Regions from separate parts of the Homo sapiens genome. Here region 1 is linked to region 2. Evidence: fine-mapped expression QTL. A gene starts in region 2. The other region holds a variant in brackets. All regions are shown on one strand. Distances are from middle to middle. Region 1 holds the start of TMEM86B (transmembrane protein 86B). Region 2 holds the start of DNAAF3 (dynein axonemal assembly factor 3).

Region 1 (10,098 bases), 62 kb after region 2:
AAACAGGATGCCCTTCAATGCTTGAGCCCGGTGACTCAGGTTTCCCCCAGAGTAGAAAACCCAGGGCTGGGTACTTTTTGGGGTCCCTCAGCTGCCATACAAGTGAGGCACACACAGTTGTGACCCTATCCTCCCTAGGCCACTTTCCTAAGCCTTGGGGGACCAGCTTACAACGGACCCTGGGATTCTGCTGTCCCTTGCTGCCCATCTGTGAGAAACAAGCCCACTTCATGTAACTTTTTGCGTGTGGCGTTCTGTCTCATCACTCTGGCAAGTTGGTAACCAGTGCACAGTGAACCTGCTTCACAGACCACACCCCATAGTCCCTGGGCCTCCAGAGCAAAGGGAAGCATCCCCTCCTTCCCACAGCCCTGCTTGCTCTGGAAGGATGCACCCTATCAGTGGGGCCGATGCCAGAGGCCTCCTGAGGCCTCCTACTCCCCAAGCCCAGAGTGCTCTCACCCCTCGCCCGTGGCCTCTGTGAGCGTCTGGCTGGGGCTGTTGACCTCATGCTTCTGGGCCCACATGCTGGGGTACTGCGTCCCTGCAGCCAGGCCCTCCACAGGCACCCTGATGTCTGAGGAGTCACTGGCCCAGCAGAGCCAGTAGGGGCAGGTCTTGGAGTCTGGGCCTGCGGGGCCCTCAGGGTGAGGGAGCTGGTGGTCTGAGCCGGTGTGACCAGGCCAGGGACTAGTTTGGGAATGTGGAAAGGAGAGAGTCATTTGATAAAGTTTGTTTGTGGCTCTAATGAGAATAAAGTGCACAGCCTGGCACTTTTTACAAATGTGCACACGCACGCACGCGCACACACACGCAAACACACATGCACACACAAGTGCACGTGCACACACACGCACATGTTGCTGGGCAGTGGAAAGGTGGCCCCTCTTACCTGTAGACATGCTCAGGACGTCCCTGGGGCCACCTACTCCTTTCTTCTTGGCCCACACAGAGGTGGTGTAGAGGGTCCCAGGCTGAAGCCCTCCACCACGAGCCAGCAGTGTGACGTGCTTGTGTTCCCGCTGGCCATGCCCCTGGACCCAGTAGATGGAAGTCTGCCGGTCTGGGCCCTTGGGGCTGCCCAGCTCAGGGTGATGGAGCTGGAGGTCCGAGCCTCCACACTCACGATTCTGTCTGCTTTGGCGGCTGACATGGGTAGAAGCCTCTGCGGCAAACAGAAGACGGAATCCCACGGCCCTTCCTAGACGTGCAGGATGGAGGCTGATGGGGTCACTAACCTGCTGCTGTGGCCTCTGTCGTGGTCCCGAGGGCCTGGGGAGGGCCCAGATGGGGAATCAGACCCACGGTGGTCTGACCTGCAGGATCGGGATGAAGGCTGCTGAGTCCCACCCCGCCTCATCCCCACCAGCCACCCCGGCTTGGGAGGGAAGATGGAGCCGGCGTTTTGCCCCTTGCCCCAGGTCTGGGTCCCGGCAGGGCTGGAAGGAGCCTGAGAGGGATGTGCGCAGCACCTCCGAGAGTCCCGCTTTAGAGAAACACGAATCAGATCATGAGAAAGCAGACCTCTGAGAAGTCAGATGAAAGGTCGTCGGGGGACCAGAATCAGGGAGGAGGGACACGACGCTGGGGCTGCTGGATGCCGACAGGAGAGCAGCGTCCCGTCGCTCTGGACTGCCGACCCCACAGAGCCCAGGGACCAAAAGCCAGAATGTTCCCCAAACACCAGGGATTATGGGCCCAGCCCCTCCTCCCTCAGACTCAAGAGTCCAGGCCCCCAGCCCCTCCTCCCACAGACTCAGGAGTCCAGCCCCTCCTCTCCCAGACCCAGGAGTTCGGGCCCCCAGGCCCTCCTCCCTCAGACTCAGGAGTCCAGACCCCAGCCCCTCCTCCCTCAGACGCAGGAGTCCAGGCCCCCAGCCCCTCCTCCCTCAGACCCAGGCCCCCAGCCCCTCCTCCCCCAGACCCAGAAGTCCAGGTCCCCAGCCCCTCCTCCCTCAGACTCAGGAGTCCAGACCCCCAGCCCCTCCTCCCTCAGACCCAGGAGTCCAGACCCCCAGCCCCTCCTCCCTCAGACTCAGGAGTCCAGGCCCAGCCCCTCCTCCCTCAGACTCAGGAGTCCAGGCCCAGCCCCTCCTCCCTCAGACTCAGGAGTCCAGGCCCCCAGCTCCTCCCTCAGACTCAGGGGTCCAGGCCCCAGTCCCTCCTCCCTCAGACTCAGAAGTCCAGGGCCCCAGCCCCTCCTCCCTCAGACCCAGGAGTCCAGGTTCCAGCCCCTCCTCCCTCACCTCCAGGAACCCCTCATGTCTGCAGGCCCCACGTGCCCCTGGAATCTGCACACCCAGACCCCCGTCCCTCCTGCTACACTTCACTGCGCAATTTCCTCTTTCCCCACCTTTCGCCAGGTCTGAGTGGAGAGGGTAGGAGATGAGGAGGAAGTGGAGGTTTCGAACCTGAGTCCAATCCTTCAGATCCTCCTCATGCCTGACCCTTCCTCAAGGAAATCCCTCAGCTTCCACTTCTCCTCACTCCAACTGTGGATTCCTGTCCTCACTTTCCTTCCTGGTCCCCGTCCTCCAGGCTCCCCACCTTCCCTTCCCACCTCTGTACTCTCACATCTGAGTCCCTAAATGCAGGTCATGGATGGAGAAGTCACCTCTCTGCTGTAAGAGTCCCTAAATGCTGGCCATGGATGGAGAAGTCCCCTCTCTGTCGTAAGAGTCCCTAAATGCAGGTCATGGATGGAGAAGTCACCTCTGCTCTAAGAGTCCCTAAATGCAGGTCATGGATAGAGAGGTCGCCTCTCTGCTGTAAGAGTCTCTAAATGCTAACCATGGATGGAGAAGTCGCCCCTCTGCTATGAGTCACTGAAAGCACATCATGGATGCAGAAGTCAAATAGGGTCTTGGAGAGCAGCTTGGACCCTGTCAAGTCTTCAGATGCAGAATCTGAGGACCTGAGGGATAGCAGCTTGCCGAGGTCACACAGCCTTGACAAGGAGCACAGCTGGGTTCCTCCTTCCCATTTGATTCCTACCCCCTTGCCGCCCTCCCTCCTCCAAGACCCCTCATCCTCAAGCCTCCCACCCTTCTCCCGATACTGCATGTGACTGCAGCGGGTTGTATCCCCTAGAAAGATATGTCCAAGTCCTAACCCCAGATACCTCTGCAGGTGACACTACTTGGAAATAGGGGCTTTGCAGACATACTTAAGGATCTTGAGATAGAATCACCCTGGGTTTAGGGTGGGCCCTAAATCCAATGACCTGTGTCCCTAGAAGGATGCGGACACAGAGGGAGGCTGCCAGTTGAAGACAGTCACATGAAGACGGAGAGACACAGCCACAGGCCGATGGAAGCCAGGGATTCCCGGGAGCCTCCAGAAGCCGAGAGGGCAAGGACGGATTCTTCCCTGGAGCCTCAAGAGGGACCATGGGCCGGAAAACACCCGGATTTTGGACTTTGGGTCTCCAGAACTGCAGGAGAGTCCATTCATCTTGTTTCAAAGCATCTGGCTTGGGGTAATTTGTGACAGCAGCCTCAGGAAACTAACACAAAGACCAAACAGTCCTCTTGGCTCAGTTCTGCACAATCCTCACTTTATCCCCCCGAATCCCCCCACCAGAGGGCCATGGAGGGTCCCACTGGGCACCAGGCCTGGTCCATGGGGAGCGACAAAGAACCTTCTGCTGTCATTAACCGCGATGGTTTATCACAATCATGACCCTCCCCGAGGCCTCTCCTACGGTAACAGCAACATCTACGGTTCCACACCCACAGGGAAAACGGATTCAGAGCAGCAGCAGGGGGCGGGCAGGCTGTGGGGCCGACAGTGAACATGGAGGCAGGCTGGTGGCTGGGAGGGCTCCATGTGGGCCTGGCTGAGGAGCCAGGGATCTGGAGTCAGAACCGGGGGAAGGCAGCTGGAACCCAGTAGTGGACTTGGAATTCCGCAAATCGTCCTCAAACGTCTTCAGCCAGAAGCGACGGCGGCAGCGGCGCCTGCAGACAGGCGTCAGGAAGCTTCGCTGCTGAGGGTATTTCTCAGGCTGGGCTGGGCTGGGAGGCCCAGGTCCTTGCAGGAGGAGAGGGCCTGAACACCGGCCCTTCAAGCTCCCTAGTCAGTCAGTCTTGGGCACCGGGCTCCTGAGGGCTGACAGTGTGATGAGGAGCTGGGCAGCATAGTAGGTGGTCATGATCACCAGGTGGGCATGGGGCAGGGGCTGGGCGAAGGTGTCCCAGGCCAGCACGCCATCAGAGAGCGTGAAGAGCAGCGCGCCCCAGCCGGCACTCCCGCCCTGGGCCAGGCCGCGCCACAGCATGGCCATCAGGATCAGCCCATAGGCTGCCACCGGCAGGACCATATCCGGCTCGAGGTGCTGGAGCACAAGGCTGAGGTAGGGGCCAGGGGCCAGGATGATGAGCAGCAGCAGGCCGGGCTGCAGGGGAGAGAAGCCGAAGGCCCAGACGTAGAGGAGGTGGGCGGTGGCAAAGGCGGCCATGCCTGGCGGGAGAGGGGTGGGGTACCAGTGAGGAAGGCCCATCCTGGGAATGGCCCCGAGGTCACCCCTCAGGGCCTAAGAGAAGGACCATCCCAGAGCACCAGGCCCCACCCTGGCCGAGCCTCCTTGCAGGTCTCCCCACATGCAGTGTCCATCCTTGCTCTGCTCAGAACTGCCAGGAGGCCCCACCTTCCCTTGGCCTCCAAAGCCCCATGGCCTCCAGCTCTCCAGCCACTCTGCGCCAGCCACCCTGGCCTGCTGGGCTACAAGCACCTGACACGTCCCTGCCCCGGAGCCTTTACACTCGCCCTTCCTCCACACAGGCATACAGCCCTTCAGCTCTGCCCAAATGTGACTTCCTCAGTGAGGCCTTCCTCAGCAACCCTGCTTCAAACTGCAGTACCTCCAGCAGGTCCTCACTGCCCTCTGCGCCACCTCAGCTACTGCCCTAACACCGCCTGCCCCCACCCCTCGCTGGAGCGTGAGCTGCCTCGGTCACGGCTGCGCCCCCCACTGTGCCTTTGACCACTGGAGCTCTCACAGGAGCCCTCTGCACCCAGGCTCCCATCCAAGTGCTGGGGCCTCTCTCACACGGGCATCTGGAAAGCGTCACAGCACCTTCCACTCACCAGGGACGAAGGCTGCCGGCCAGATGAGGCAAGCGTCCCCCACAGCCGAGCACACAAGGGCTCCCTGGAGGAGCTGGGTGTAGCCCCCGCTTGGGGACATGACCCACAGGAACCCAGCCAGGCAGAGGAC[G/A]GGCAGGCACTTGACCAGGGCAGCGAACCAGGACAGCTGGTCCTCGGGAATCCAGAGGCAGAAGTACACGCAGCAGGAGAGGATGAAGGGGCTCAGCCACCTGCAGACATCTGGGCGCTTTGGGGAGTGGGGAGCTACTGAGCCGAAACCCAGCCCAGCCCCCATTCTTGGGACTCAGATCTCATGGCTCCTGTCCCACCCCCACCTGGGACCCCAGCTGTACAGGCTGGACCCATTCAGGGACCAGGCTGCCAGAACCCAGCTTCCCAGGGCCCAACCAACTCAAGGACAGCAGCTCCCAGACCCGCCGGCTGCTGGGGTTCCAGGGCCCTGTCCCCCCAGCCCCAGGCACAGCTCAGAAGGCTCTCACCTGGGCTGAGCAGTGAGTCTTCAGGGTCTGCCCCGCTTTGCCAGCGTCCATGCTGGCCTGATAGCCCCAGAGCGACCTAATCTGGGAGCGAGTGGCTTCAGGGGGTGGAGGGGAGGGCTCATGGTTACACGTTAACCCAAGGAGCGTCCTGTGGACTCTGTGACTGATAACAGGGCCCAGGGAGATGTTGTCCTCACCCTGGGGATGGCCCTGCCTGGCGCCCGCTGATAAAGCACTGTTGGCACTGGGGGTCCCTCTGCCCTAGCCTGCTGGGACATGGCTTCCTCCTCCTATCTGCCTGGGGAGGTTAGGCCCACAAATGCCTGTCCCCTTGTCCTGGGCCCCAACAATCAGAAGAGATGGGGTGCAGAATTCCAACAGCCACCCCATCATGGGAAGCGGGAGAGGGGCTGGCTGGCAGGAGTGCCCCTGGAGGGATGGGAAGGCGAGTCTGTCCTTCACTTGCTGCCCTAGCCGTCTCCCTCCCTGCTCCATGAAACCTTTCCTCATTCTGCTCAACCCCACCAAGCCCTCAGGGGCTCCACCACAAACACTGCTTCAATGGGTGACCAGGAGGGACCACCACGAATGCGGGGAACAAGCACCCTCTCCTGTTAGCTGAGCGAGCCCCCAGGTGACCTCCAAGCCAACTGCCACCCCAGTGAGGACGCTGTCCTCATGGCCCGGTCCACACGCTCCGGTTTCCCAGCGCCGCTCACCGGTGCCACTCGCTGCACACGCAGCCTACACTTCTACCTTCTACCTGAAAGACTCAGACCTACTGGGCGCCAGTACCCAGCCTCAATGCTGGGCTTGGTTACTGGGGGTAAGCAGGGGCAGGAGCAGGGATTTGAGCCTGTCGGTGGCTTCTATCCTCTGCCCAAGGCCCTGCCCACAGGTGGGGTAGACCTGGCAGGAGCCCTCACAGCCAGTGCCTGGCCCAGCCTGGGGCCTCTGCAGCCACAGGGCTCCCTCTGGCAGGACAGTGTGGGGGCAGACTGGGTCAGGAGCACCCCCAGCCTCTGGGGTGCAGGGATAATACAGGCTCCCCACCCCGCATCCCAGAACGTAAGGTCTGACCAGCAGAATCGTAAACTGCCTTCCTTTATTTATATTTGCAATATGAAATAGAAGCTCGGCACAAACGCACGCACACTCACACCAGCCTGGGAGGAGGGAGCTGGGGACAAGGTCACTTGGCAACAGGGCTGGGACCTCAGACCCTCAAGGCCCCTGGGGCTGTTGCCGGGGAGGCCCCTGCTCCCCAGAGCCGGACTGGCCTGGTTGAAAGTGCAGGGTCTGGGCAAAGGCACGGCCCCCACTCGGGACCCTCTGGCACCCCCACCCACGCTGGGCCGTCCCCCATGGTGGACCTGAGCTAAAAGGCCGGGTGTGGGCGTGGCCGTCTGCGCTGCAGCGTGGGACAGCTGGGCACGTGGGTGGCAACCTTGGGACCCCTAACACCAGCTCCCGCTGGGACGGAACAGGGAAGGCTGTGCTTTGGAGCCGCCAGCCCAGTTCGGTGTCCTCACTCTCTCTCGCTCTCCTCCCTCTCTCTATATAATATATAATATATGTTTCTCTCTCTCCATTCTCTCTATTTGACTCTCTGTATCTTTATTCTAGGAGGCAACGCTCCAAAACTTCTCTTCTCAGTGCAAATGGGGGTGGGTTGGGCCTGTCTCCCTGGCACCAGCCTCCTGGGGGTCCAGAGGAGAGAATGTGGGGGTGTCAGGGTGATGAGGGCAATGGGGGCCATCGTGGGACCCGCCCTGCCCCCACCCCGGGAGATCCACGGGAGGACGGAAGATTTGGCCGCCGCTGCCGCACCAGGCAGCTATCTGGAAACAGAGGGAGATGTCGTGTGAGGGTCTAGCAGGCCCAGCCCCACCTACCCAGCCCGAGGCTGCAGCCACACTCACTGGGAGCCTGGGGATGCAGGCCCTTCCGGGGCAGAGCCATTGGGTATCGGAGGAGGCGTGAGGGCCTGGGCACTGTCAGGGGAGAGAGGGGATGTGCAGAGGTCACTTCCTGCCCCACCAGCCCCACCCCCACCCCCCCGCCCTGCTGCCCTGGTGCTCACCTCTGGCTTTGGGGAAGCCCCAAGGGCTCTGGGCTCTTCTCCCCTTCTGTGGTCTGGGGGGGCTGGTGGGCCCCGGAGGCTGGGACAGAGGTAGAGGGGTCTCTGGTTGCACTGTGGGTGAGAGGCAGGTGCGGCTGTCAGCGTGGCCCCCACCGTCACCTGCTGACACCCTCACATCCCACCCGACTGAAGTCGGCTCACTGGGTGTGTGTCTGCCACCTGCCCCACGGGGAGGGGCCTCCCGAGGACGCAGCTGGCTCAGCGTGGAGGGACAGCACAGCCCTGGACAGGAAGACAAGCACCCCTCTTCCCGCCTCCTGTCCCTGTGGAGGAGGTACTCGAGGCCGGCTGAGACAGCCCCAAAGGGTCTTCTGCATGCTCTCACCCTCCCAATCCTTCACACCCTCCAACGAGCCCTTCCCAACCCTGGGGCTCAAGGGCCCCAAGCATCCCAGGCTACTAAGAGAAGAACCAGCCTACAGAGTGCAAGGGGCTGGGGCACAACATGAGGCTGCGCCTGGGGGTCCTGCAAAGGAGGCCTGGAGCAGCTCAGGGACAAGATGAACCCAGAGCCCACCTCAGCGAAGAGGAGAAAAGACTTCTCCCGATACTAGGCAGCCCCACCTCGCTGCTCACCTGTCCGAGGAGCTGGGGGCAGAACGGATCCCGTGGAAGGTGGCCTGAAGGTCCCCGATGCTAACCAAGGCCTGGCAAGGGGCTGTGGGGGATAAGAGATCTCAGCTGCAGCTCCCAGCAAGCTCGGAGCTGGCCAGGCTGCTCTCTCTGCCCAGGGCCGCGGGTGGGCAGGGCAAAGCGGGGCTCACCTGAGGGCTCCGTGACTTTGCTGCCTTCTGTGGCTTCCTGAGGTGCTGAGGGGGGTGTGGGGTCCTGAGACCTGGTAGGCGAGAGAGGCAGCCCAAGGGGGCAGCTAGGGTTAGCACTCGAGCCTATGAGAGGACGGGGACCCCATGGCCACCTCCTGGCCTCGGGATACCAGCACCATTTAGCCCGTTCCATCCGGTTCTCACCTGAGCTGCAGGGCGTCACGGGCAGGAGGGCTGGCCAGGCTCTGAGTGGGGAGGCCCTGGGGCACACTGAGGGGCCCCTGTGGGGCTGGAGGCCCAGTGTGCAGCTCTTCCTCCCCGGAGACTCGGGGGCTGGTCGGGGCATCTGTAGGCACTGGGTCAAAGGTGGCTGTCCAGCTGGGGCCTGGGATAGAGGTGGGGGAGCGGGATGGAGGGTGAACTCAGTAGCAGGCAGACAGCCCTGTGTACACCTGACCACACCGCCCATTCATTCACCTGGAGGCTGAGGGCCAGGGCTGGGGTAGGACAGAGGGGTGGCCCCTCCACGGGCTGCACAGCCAATGCCCTCCTCGTCTTCCTCCTCCTCCTCGTCCTCCTCTTCTTCGTCCTCACTGTCTGTGCTGCCTCCACTCCTGCCCCAGAAACCACCTCGTCAGCTAGCTGTGTGGGACAGACCGGCCGACACCCATCCTGTTCCCTGCAGCCCAGGGTCAGCCCAAGGAGAGCGGGCTGGGATGACAGGCAGGTCACAGAAGGGTCCAGGGAGCCTGGGGTGTGACGACACCAGGAGAGGCTGGGAGAGGGAGTTCTGAGCCAACGGCAAGAACACAGGCGGGCAGGGACAGAATGCGGCCGTAAGGAGACCGTCCGTCGCCAGTCATCCGTGGAGGGCAGGCCCTGGGGAAGTGGGCTGAGCCTCAGCCATGGCAACCAGAGCAGACAGACCCACTCACCAGCTCTCAAGCCACCTCCCAGCCGTCACCTCACACGGTCACCACAGTGACAGGCCTTCCCACCAGCAGGCCCACCCTCTGGACAGAGGCTTCACACTACTCTCTCCCTCCAACTAGAAACTCCAAGAAGGCAGAGATGGCTGAGTTTTGCCACTGCTGTATCCTCAGCCCTGAGAAACCACCAGGCACCCATAGCTGCTCCAAAAACACTGGCTGAATGTTGACTAACACACACCTGTGAGCATGAAGAAAATCCAAGCAACCTACGTGCTGATCAACCGGGGAAGGGGTAAGCAAAGTAACACTAAAACTAAGCTTTAACAACGAGGGTGCACTCTGAAAAACGCCATCATTAGGCGATTTTGCTATTGTGTGAACATTCTAGAGTGCACTTACACACACCTGGATGGTGGCGCCTCCTGTACACCTAGGCTCTGTGGTATAGCCTATTGTTCCTAGACTACCGACCTATACAGCATGTTACAGTACTGAATACTACAGGCAATTCTAACAATGGTAAATGTTTGTGTATCTAAACATAGGAAAAATACAGCAAAAATAGAGGATTATAATCTCACGGGACCACTGTCATATGTGGTCCATCGCTGACCCAAAGATGCAGTATGGGACTATATACTATGTCTAAAATGCTGACCCAATATTTTTGT
Region 2 (10,098 bases):
AGGATGGCGGGGCGGGGCTTAGAACGCTGGGAGTCCTCGGTCCAGGACTAGAACTCCCGCAGCTGCTTGGAGGATGTGAAGTGGGGCGGGACCTATCCCGCGGGGATGGGGCCTGTTCTCTGAATGGAGTCGTTCCCACCAAGCGACGGGCGGGGTCTGGAGCTGGGGGCGGGGCCTGCTGTGGGGGCGGGGCCTTGCGCACCCACCGACCCCCAGCCCCACCTCTACCCCCAGTCCCAGCCTCGCCGCGCACCTTGACTGGCTGGCCGTTGCTCGTCCGCAGGAGGCTCTCGTCGTCCGCTTCGATGCCGAAGGCCACGAAGGGCCCCGTGGCGATGTCCCCCCAGTACCCGCGCGCTGCCACGCGCTCCCCACGCTGGAAAAGGAGGGAGAGAGGAGGCAGGTGAGGTCGATGTTGGGGCCCCTGACTCCTAGGACTCCGAGCAGCAGCAGTGGGCCAGGACAGGCAGTGGACACGCACGTAGCTCAGGAGGCGACCGGACGCCAGGGTCCGGTTGGGCACATGATAGGCGCTGGAGTCCCTGAGTTCAAAGGCGACGCCTGTGTCCCGCCAGCGTCGGAACTCCTGGGGGTGAATGACTTGAGCCTGGGGTGGGGGGCGGGAAGAAGGGAGCCCTCAGTGAACCGAGCGTGGAGAGACCCCTACACCAGCCTCCCTCAGACCCAGGAGTCCAGGTCCCCAGGCCCTCCTCCCTCAGACCCAGGAGTTCAGGCCCCCAAACCCTCCTCCCTCAGACTCAGGAGGCCCCCAGCCCCTCCTCCCTCAGACCCAGGGGTCCAGGCCCCCAGCCCCTCTCCTGGGCCCCTCACCCCGCGGTCATGCAGCTTCATGCGCAGGTCCCAGTCGCTGACACCGCGCCGGGCGTCGTAGCGGGAGCCCAGGTAGTGGCGCAGGCGCGAGTCCCAGAGGCGGCTCATGGGGAACGCCTGGGGCCCTTTCTCGCCGCCAGCCCAGAAGCGGAATACGGCCTCCAGGGCATCCCGCTCGCGGAACTGCGGGGCCAGGCACGCGGTGGGACAGAGGAAGGCAGAGAGGGATGCAGGGAGAGCGGATTCTAATTGACCCTCTCTTCCATCCCAGAACAGGGGAACGATTCCCCCGTTTCTCGGATGGAAAAACTGAGGCTCCGAAAGCAGAAGCCACCTCCTGCCCCCAGGCCAAATCCCACAGTGGGAGTCGGGGAACTGGGATTCGAACCCCCTAGCCCGCCGCCTGCTCCATCAACGCACGTCCTTTGGACTGTGCGCTTCCATTATTCCCGCGGCCACCCGATCCCAGATGGAGGCCGGGCGGCGGCACCTTGAGGGCGCGGAGGCTGAGCCAGGGCAGCTGTTCCTCCAGGCGGTCGGGCTCGGGGACCAGGTGCGCCAGCAGGTCGGCCTGGGCACGCACGAAGGCGGCCACTGGCGGGCGCAGCAGCGCGTTCCCCCACACTTCCAGGAAGGTCTCGCTTCGCTCTACGGAGAGAGGGAGATAATTGCGGGAATGTGTGGAGGAGGGAGCCCAGAAATTACACCCTTAATATGTTATTATGTCATAGTCATCTAATGAAAACAATGAACCCCCGCAAACTCCCCACGCATCCCAAAAACTACATGAAGAACAGGGCCGGACATGGTGGCGGGCGCCTGTAATCCCAGTTACTCGGGAGGCTGAGGCAGGAGAATCGCTTGAACCCGGAGGCGGAGGTTGCAATGGGCCGAGATCATGCCATTGCACTCCAGCCTGGGCAACAGAGTGAGACTCCGCCTCTAAAATAAATAAATAAATAACCACCTAGAAGAGGGAATTAGAGTTGCAGATTCCACACTCACCGCAGACAGAGAATATTTGGGGGAAAAGATAACAACACAACAGTAAAAAATAATACAAATTGTAAAATATGGTGTAAGCATTTACATTGTATTACATATTATAGGTAATCTAGAGATGATTTGCGGTGTATGGGACCATGTGTACAGGCTATTTGTAAGTACATCTTTTTTGTTTTGAGACAGTGTCTCACTCTGTTGCCCAGGCTGAATGCAGTTGTGCCATCATAGTTCACTGTTACCTCGACCACCTGAGCTTAAGGGACCCTCCTCCTCCAGCTTCCCAGCTAGCTGGGGCTAGGCATTAGCTACCACACCCAGCTAATGTTTTATTTCTTTTTCTTTTCTTTTTCTTTTTTTTTTTTTTTTTTTTTTTTTTTTTTGAGACGGAGTCTCGCTCTGTCGCCTAGACTGTAGTGCAGTGGCGCGATCCCGGCTCACTGCAAGCTCCGCCTCCCGGGTTCACGCCATTCTTCTGCCTCAGCCTCCGGAGTAGCTGGGACTACAAGCGCCCGCCACCACACCCGGCTAATTTTTTGTATTTTTAGTAGAGACGGGGTTTCACGTGTTAGCCAGGATGGTCTCGATCTCCTGACCTCGTGATCCACCCGCCTCAGCCTCCCAAAGTGCTGGGATTACAGGCGTGAGCCATCGCGCCCGGCGGCTAATTTTTTTTTTTTTTTTTTTGTATTTTTAGTAGAGACGGGGTTTCACCGTGTTAGCCAGGATGGTCTCGATCTCCTGACCTCGTGATCTGCCTGCCTCGGTCTCCCAAAGTGCTGGGATTACAGGCGTGAGCCACCGCGCCCGGCCAATATTTTATTTCTTGTAGAGACGGGGTCTCACTATGTTGACCAGGCCAGTCTCAAACTCGTGGTCTCAAGCAGTCCTCCCACCTCAGGCTCCCAAAGTGTTAGGATTACAGGCGTGAGCCACCGCCCCTGGCAATACTATACAATTTTATAAGGGACTTGAGCATCCTTGGATCTTGGTATCTGCAGGGGTCCTGGAACCAGTCCCCAGTGTTACTGAGGGATGACTGTATATACCTTTGCATATAATATATATACACATAGACATACAAATAGTTTCATGTTAGTTGTTTAAGAACTTAATAGAAGAGAACTATGTGCCTTTAGTAAAATAGATCAGTTTAGTTCTAACTGTTTAAGAACTTTGAACAATCTGTACTGTGCAATGTACTCTGAATTCCCTGGGTCATTAATGACTGATATGGTTTGGATCTGTGTCCCTGCTTAAATCTCATGTTGAATTGTAATCCCCAATATTGGAGGCGGGGCCTGGTGGGAGGTGATTGGGTCACAGGGGCAGATTTCTCCCTTGCTGTTCTCGTGATAGTGAGTTCCCACAAAATCTGGTTATTTGCAAGTGTGCGCCTCTTCCCCACTGCCTCTCTTGCCCCTTTTCCTGCCGTGGAACAGATGCCTGCATCCCCTTCGCCTCCTGTCATGATTGTAAGTTTCCTGAGGCCTTCCCAGCCATACTCCCTGTACAGCCTGTGGAACTGTGAGTCAATTAAACCTCTTTTCTTGGGGCCGGGTGTGATCGCACCCGCCTGTAAACCTAGCACTTTGGCAGGCCAAGGCGGGCGGATCACCTGAGGTCAGCATCTCGAGACCATCCTGGCCAACATGGTGAAACCCCGGCTCTACTAAAAATACAAAACCTTAGCCGGGCATGGTGGTGCATGCCTGTAATCCCAGCTACTTGGGAGACTGAGGCAGGAGAATTGCTTGAATCCAGGAGGCAGAGGTTATGGAGAGCCAAGATCGTGCCATTGCACTCCAATCTGGGCAACGGGACAAGACTCTGCCTCAAATAAATAAATAAATAAACAAACAAACCTGTTTTCTTTTTCTTTCTTTCTTTTTTTTTTAGATGGAGGTTTTGCTTTTGTCGCCCAGGCTGGAGTGCAGTGGTGTGATCTCGGCTCACTGCAACCTCTGCCTCCCGGGTTCAAGTGATTCTCCTGCTTCAGCCTCCCGAGTAGCTGGGACTACAGGCGCCTGCCACCACACCCGGCTAATTGTTGTATGTTTAGTAGAGACGGGGTTTCACCATGTTGAGCAGGATGGTCTCGATCTCCTGACCTCGTGATCTGCCCACCTCAGCCTCCCAAAGTGCTGGGATTACAGGTGTGAACCACTGCACCCAGCCTCTCCTGGAATTTTCTAAGTGGCTCTAAGATGTATTATATTTAGCCCCATTTTACAGGTAGGAGGAGCTGAGGCTCTAAGATGGCAAATTACATCAGAGGGGACCATCATCAATAAATATATTGGATTTTTTTTTTCATCAGAGGTACCACACTGGAAAATACCAAACATTTTTGGTTTTTAGATGGAGTTTCGCTCTCTTTTTTTTTTTTTTTTTTTTTTTTTTGAGACGGAGTCTCGCTCTGTCACCCTGGCTGGAGTGCAGTGGCGCGATCTCAGCTCACTGCAAGCTCCGCCTGCCGGGTTCACGCCATTCTCCTGCCTCGGCCTCCCAAAGTGCTGGGATTAACAGGCGTGAGCCACCGCGCCCGGCCGGAGTTTCGCTCTTGTTGCCTAGGCTGGAGTGCAATGGCGCGATCTCGGCTCACTGTAACCTCCGCCTCCCAGGAAAATAACCAAACTTTTTAATTGTACCATTGAAATGCCAGAATCCCTCTAGGGAGGGGGAGGAGACCAGCGGTCAGAATGCCTGGGTCCTAGCAACAGACCTTGCAGCCCCATCTTCTCCGGTTCCTCCAGGGCTAGGCTGAAGATCAGCATGTGTCGGGCCACAGCTTCCAGATTATTCTCCAGCACAAAGAACTAGAAGGATGGACAGGGCAGAATAATTCTGAGACCTGTTTGCCTGGGTCCTAGGAGACCCAGGAGAGCAGGCCCTCAGCTCTCTCCTTCCACACACCCGAGTTCTGTACACCAGCCTCTTCCTTCAAACACAGAAGTCTGTGTCCCCAGAGCTCTCTTCCCTTCCATTACTCAGAAGACCTCATCCTCGAGCTCTTCCCCACTATAGAACCCAGGAGTTCCAAACCCCAGCCCCTTCCTTCCCCCAAGACGCATCGGTTCGCTCCCAGCTTCTGCCTCCCTCAGATCTAGGAGTCTCCAGCCCCTTCATTCCTGGACCTGAGGTTTTAGAATTTCAATCCCTTCCTCCCTCAAGGACTCGGGAATCTGGGCTCTCATCTTCATCCCAGCTCACGTTGAACCTCCTGCGAGGCCAGAACTTCGCTCGGGACAGGGTCCGCAGCAGGTGCCGTCCATCCACAGAGCCCAGAAGCAGCACATCTAGCTCGGGGTTGCTGTGCACTGTATCGGCCTGGGAGTCTGGGTCCACAGGAGGACCTGGCAAGATGACAGCTGGCTGGGGCACCATGGTGGTTGGCAGAGCGTCCACCGTAGCATCCCCTATAAAAAATGGACTACAAATCCCAGTAGGCGTTCCGCCCGTGGCCTAGGTTCTAAGGGGAGGTGTTTCCTCTGAGTATTCTGGGATTCGCAGTCCGCAGACAGGACCTCGGGGCTGCCCCTGGGAGCGCGCCCTCTGCCGCTGGAGCGTTGGAGAACGTTAGCGCCCCCCTTGCCACCGACGCTGGGACTACGAGCTCTAAAAGGCCGTCTGCTCAGGCTGGGAAGGCAGACGGTGTATCAGACCTTGCGTGCTGGGACTCACTTTCAGCCTGCAGGTCCAGCGCCGGGGACAGGCCCCACCAGGACACGGAGCCGAAGCCGCTGCCGGAGCCGGCAGGTGTGGTCATCACCCTGCGGAAAAGACATTCTGGGAATCGCACACATTGCCCGCCCCGCTCCCCTCTCACCGCCCCTCACTTCTCGCCCCTTTGCCTCCACATGATACCTTGCCCACACCTTTATCCTCCAAATATCCCGGGACGCCCCTTCCTCTCTGCTCAGTGCAGCACTGTGGACCCGCGGCACTCCACAACCGCTGCCCAGAGTCCCCGCCCTTTTCGAGGAATCAAGCAATGGAAGCATGTGGGATGGGACCACAGCGAGCAACTGACCAATGAGAGTGAGCGAGGCCCGCCCTCTACAAACTTTTGGCCAATGGGAGCACTGAGGGCCAGCCTTCCCCCACACCTAGGAGAAGAGGGCGTGTGGACGCGGTTGTCATGACGACGGCGCCGGCGGGGGAAGGGGCGGTGCTAGAACAGGTTGGGGCGGAGTCAGGGTCGGTCCAAATTTCTGGAATGGGGGAGGCCTGGGCTGATTAAAATTGAGAGTGAAGGGAGCTTAATCTTATTTCTTGTTTTTTGTTTTTTTGTTTTCTTCATATGCCTTTGCTCATACGTAACGGAATTTTCATCAATTCAAATAAAGTGAAGTGTCTAGACTTTAGATGGCAGGCTTCTGAGCCCGCTCCCCGCCCCAGCACAACGTGGGCTCTACCACACAGAACAGCCCACAGGTGGGACACTGATGTGCAGGTCATTAAAAATTCAGGGATTTGTGAGCTGGTTATTGTTACACGAAGCCATAATTTAAACTTACAGCTAGATCCTTTTGTAGTTTCTAAGCGGGATGATTGGGTGTTCACGCGCATGCGTGAGATGTGCCTCCCTCAAACCTTGTTACGACATCGGCACATTACTCTTCTGACATGAACAAAAAAATTACAGGTAAATTCTGTAATCGTACAGTTAAATCAACTGCATTAAAATAAGGGTAAGTCGGCCGGGCGCTGTGGCCACGCCTGTGATCCCAACACTTTGGGAGGTCAAGGTGGGCAGATAACTTGAGGTCAGAAGTTGGAGACCAGTCTGGCCAACATGGTGAAACCGCGCCTCGACCTTAAAAAATACAAAAATTAACCGGGCGTGGTGGCACGCACCTGTAATCCCAGCTACTCCGGAGGCTGAGGCAGGAGAGTCTGTTGAACCTGGGAGGCAGAGGTTGCAGTGAACTGAGATCGCGCCTCTGAACTCCAGCCTGGGCGACAGAGCAAGACTCTGTCTCAAAAAAAAAAAAAAGAAAAACCAAAGTCTGAATGAGGCACATCTCTAGATCACCCCAGCACCCAGCACTGGGCTCAGCGCCCAAGGGGACTTGGCTCTCTGCCTCCTCTCCTTGCCCAGACACATGAGCTTAGACCAGTCACCCTTTCTGAGCCTCAGTCTGCTGCTCTGTGAAATGGGAATGTAGCGTGCAGCGGGCAGAGGTGCAGCGGATCTGCCTCCTGAGGGCAGATCTGGGCACTGGGAAGACAATACCTACTGGGGAAACGAAGGTTGAGACCTCAGACATTCCTGCAGAATCAGGCTGGCTAACCAGCCCCTTCCAGGCCAGCTCTAAGCCTGCAAGAGCCCCAGATCCTGGGTTTCTCTCTGGAGAATTAATGCCTTTCCTCCCTATTTCTCCCACTCTCCCAACAAATTCTCAGCAAAGGAACCAGAGTGACATTTTTTTTTTTTGAGATGGAGTCTTGCTGTGACACCCAGGCTGGAGTGCAGTGGCGCGATCTCGGCTCACTGAAACCTCCGCCTCCCGGGTTCAAGCGATTCTCCTGTCCCAGCCTCCCAGGTAGCTGGGACTACAGGCATTTGCCACCACACCAGCTAATTTTTGTATTTGTATTTTATTTTGTGTATATATATATATATACACACACAAAATAAAATACAAATATATGTATATATATTTATATATACACAAAATAAAATACAAATATTTTGTATATATATACAAAATAAAATACAAATATACATATATATACATATATATATATATATATATAGAGAGAGAGAGAGAGAGAGAGAGAGAGAGAGAGTTTCACTCTTGTTGCCCAGGCTGGAGTGCAATGGCGCGATCTCGGCTCACCGCAACCTCCGCCTCCCGGGTTCAAGCCATTCTTCTGCCTCAGCCTCCCGAGTAGCTGGGATTACAGGCAGGCGCCAGGACGCCCGGCTAATTTTGTATTTTTTGTAGAGACAGGGTTTCTCCGTGTTGGTCAGGCTGGTCTCCAACTCACGACCTCAGGTGATCTGCCCGCCTTGGTCTCTCAAAGTGTTGGGATTACAGGTGTGAACCACCGAGCCAGGCGATTTATTTATTTATTATTTTTTTTTTAGAGACGGAGTCTTGCTCTGTCGCCCAGGCTGGAGTGCAGTGGCACGATCTTGGCTCACTGCAACCTCCGCTTCCCGGGTTCTAGCAATTCTCCTGCCTCAGCCTCCCAAGTAGCTGGGATTACAGGCGCACGCTGCCACGCCCAGCTAATTTTTTGTATTTTAGTAGAGACGAGGTTTCACCGTGTTGCCCAGGCTGGTCTCGAATTCCTGAGCTCAGGCAATCCACCTGCCTTGGCCTCCCAAAGCGCTAGGATTACAGGCGTGAGCCACCGTGCCCAGCTCCAGCGATTCTTTTTTATTTTTAGTAGAGACGGGGTTTCACCATGTTAGCCAGGCTGGTCTCGAACTCCTGACTTCAAGAGTTCCGCCGGCCTCAGCCTCCCAAAGTGCTGGAATTACCGGTGTGAGCCACTGCACCTGGCCCAGAGTGATCTTAAACATAAATCAAATAATGTCTCCCACCTCTTCAAATCCTCCAAAGTCTTCCCGCTGCACCTGGACACATTCCCCGCTCCTTAGCTTGGCTCCCTATGCCCTATGCAATCTGCAGTCATCCACCCCTGAAGCCACATCAGCCTCCTGGCTCCTTGGAGAACACACCAAGCCGTTTGAACCCCAGGGCCTTTGCAACTTGGGATTCTTTTGCCTTAAATTATCTTCCCCCTCATCTTTGTTTTCTATATATTTATTTTTGAGACAAAGTCTTGCTCTGTTATCCAGACTTGAGTTCAGTGGTGTGATCATAGCTCACTGCAGCCTCAACCTCTCAGGCTCAAGCAGTCCTCCCACCTCAGTCCCCTGAGTAGCTGGGACCACAGGCAAGTGCCGCCATGCCCGGATATTTATTTATTTATTTATGTAGAGAAAGGGTCTCACTAGTTGCCCAGGCTGTTATTTATTTACTTATTTGAGATGGAGTTTCACTCTTGTTGCCCAGGTTGGAGTGCAATGGCGCTATCTCGGCTCACTGCAACGTCCACCTGCCGGGTTCAAGCCATTCTCCTGCCTCAGCCTCCTGAGTAGCTGGGACTACAGGCATGTGCCATCACGCCCAGCTAATTTTGTATTTTTAGTAGAGACAGGGTTTCTCCGTGTTGGTCAGGCTGGTCTCAAACTCCCGACCTCAAGTGATCCGCCGGCCTTGGCCTCCCAAAATTCTGAGATTACAGGCGTGAGCCACTGCGCCCGGCTGTATTTATTTATTTATTTATTTAAGGCAGGGACTTGCTCTGTTGCCTAGGCTGGAGTACTCCAGCCTGAAACTCCTGGGCTCAATCGATCCTCCCACCTCTGCTCCCCAAGTAGCTAGAACTATAGCCACGTGCCAGCATACCTAGCTAACTTTACAAATTTTAAAAATAGAGAGGTTATCCAGGCTGGTGTCTAACCCTGGGCCCCAAGCAATCCTCCTGCCTCCCAAAGTGCTAGGATTAAGGCATGAGCCATCGTGCTTGGCCTTGTTTTCTTTTTAAATTGGTGTAAAACACACACACTATTAAGTTGATTGGGAATGACATTTAGTACACTTGCAATGCTGTGCAACCATCACCACTGTCTAATTCCAGAACTTTCTCATCACTCCAAAAGAAAACACGTACCCCATTTATCTCCCCATTTCTCTCTCCTCTGTCCCTGGCAACCACGAATCTACTTTCTGTCTCTATGTATTTGTCAGTGCAGGAGATTTCTTTTGGATGGAATACTGCACTATGCAGCCTTCTGTATCCGGCTTCCTTCACTTGGCATAATATTTTCAGGACTCATCTATGCTGAAGCATGAATCAATGCTTTCTTCTGTTTTTATGACCAAATAATATTCCACTGTTGTTCTCCCTAACCTTTGCAAGCTTCGTTCCTTCTTGTCATTCAAGTCATGGCCCAGACCGCACCTCCTCAGCAAGGCTGCCCCTGACCACCCTCCCTAAGTTATGTCAGCCTTTTTACGTTTTGGTCCCAGTGTGGACGGCCATTTGTAATGGTTTTATTCTTCTATCGCTCTGCTTTCTTGTTGAGACAGAGACCCAAGGACCCCATTGCCATCATCTAAATCAATCCCAGGATTTAGAGACAGGCTCTCTGGCTGTGTGATTCTGAGCATTTCACAGGAATTCTCTCTCTCTCTCTCTCTCTCTTTTTTTAGATGGAGTTTTGCTCTTGTTGTCCAGGCT

Evidence for each region. PIP is the estimated chance that this variant, and not a neighbour inherited with it, causes the effect.
Region 1: its variant is fine-mapped to the expression of DNAAF3 in thyroid (GTEx, PIP 0.93).

The regions. Positions count from the first base shown.
Region 1 is chr19:55,223,103-55,233,200 of GRCh38, forward strand. It overlaps TMEM86B (transmembrane protein 86B), which reads right to left and starts at 5,661. Exons shown (of 3, transcript NM_173804.5): 1 at 5,589-5,661; 2 at 5,089-5,335; 3 at 3,536-4,461. The coding sequence starts at 5,639. The coding sequence ends at 4,079. PPP6R1 (protein phosphatase 6 regulatory subunit 1) reads right to left here. Exons shown (of 24, transcript NM_014931.4): 18 at 8,973-9,109; 19 at 8,700-8,880; 20 at 8,496-8,566; 21 at 8,308-8,389; 22 at 7,672-7,782; 23 at 7,511-7,582; 24 at 6,677-7,429. The coding sequence ends at 7,426. It overlaps MIR6804 (microRNA 6804), which reads right to left and starts at 7,850; the gene lies at 7,783-7,850. The variant G/A (reference allele first, on the strand shown) is at 5,219.
Region 2 is chr19:55,160,812-55,170,909 of GRCh38, forward strand. DNAAF3 (dynein axonemal assembly factor 3) reads right to left here and starts at 5,802. Exons shown (of 12, transcript NM_001256715.2): 1 at 5,712-5,802; 2 at 5,518-5,606; 3 at 5,047-5,189; 4 at 4,559-4,652; 5 at 1,322-1,479; 6 at 832-1,014; 7 at 482-607; 8 at 254-376. The coding sequence starts at 5,602. It overlaps DNAAF3-AS1 (DNAAF3 antisense RNA 1), which reads left to right. Exons shown (of 4, transcript XR_007067345.1): 2 at 235-403; 3 at 3,733-3,989; 4 at 5,008-6,093. It overlaps LOC124904795 (small nucleolar RNA U13), which reads left to right and starts at 6,360; the gene lies at 6,360-6,463. RefSeq lists an enhancer at 1-867 and a silencer at 5,182-5,413.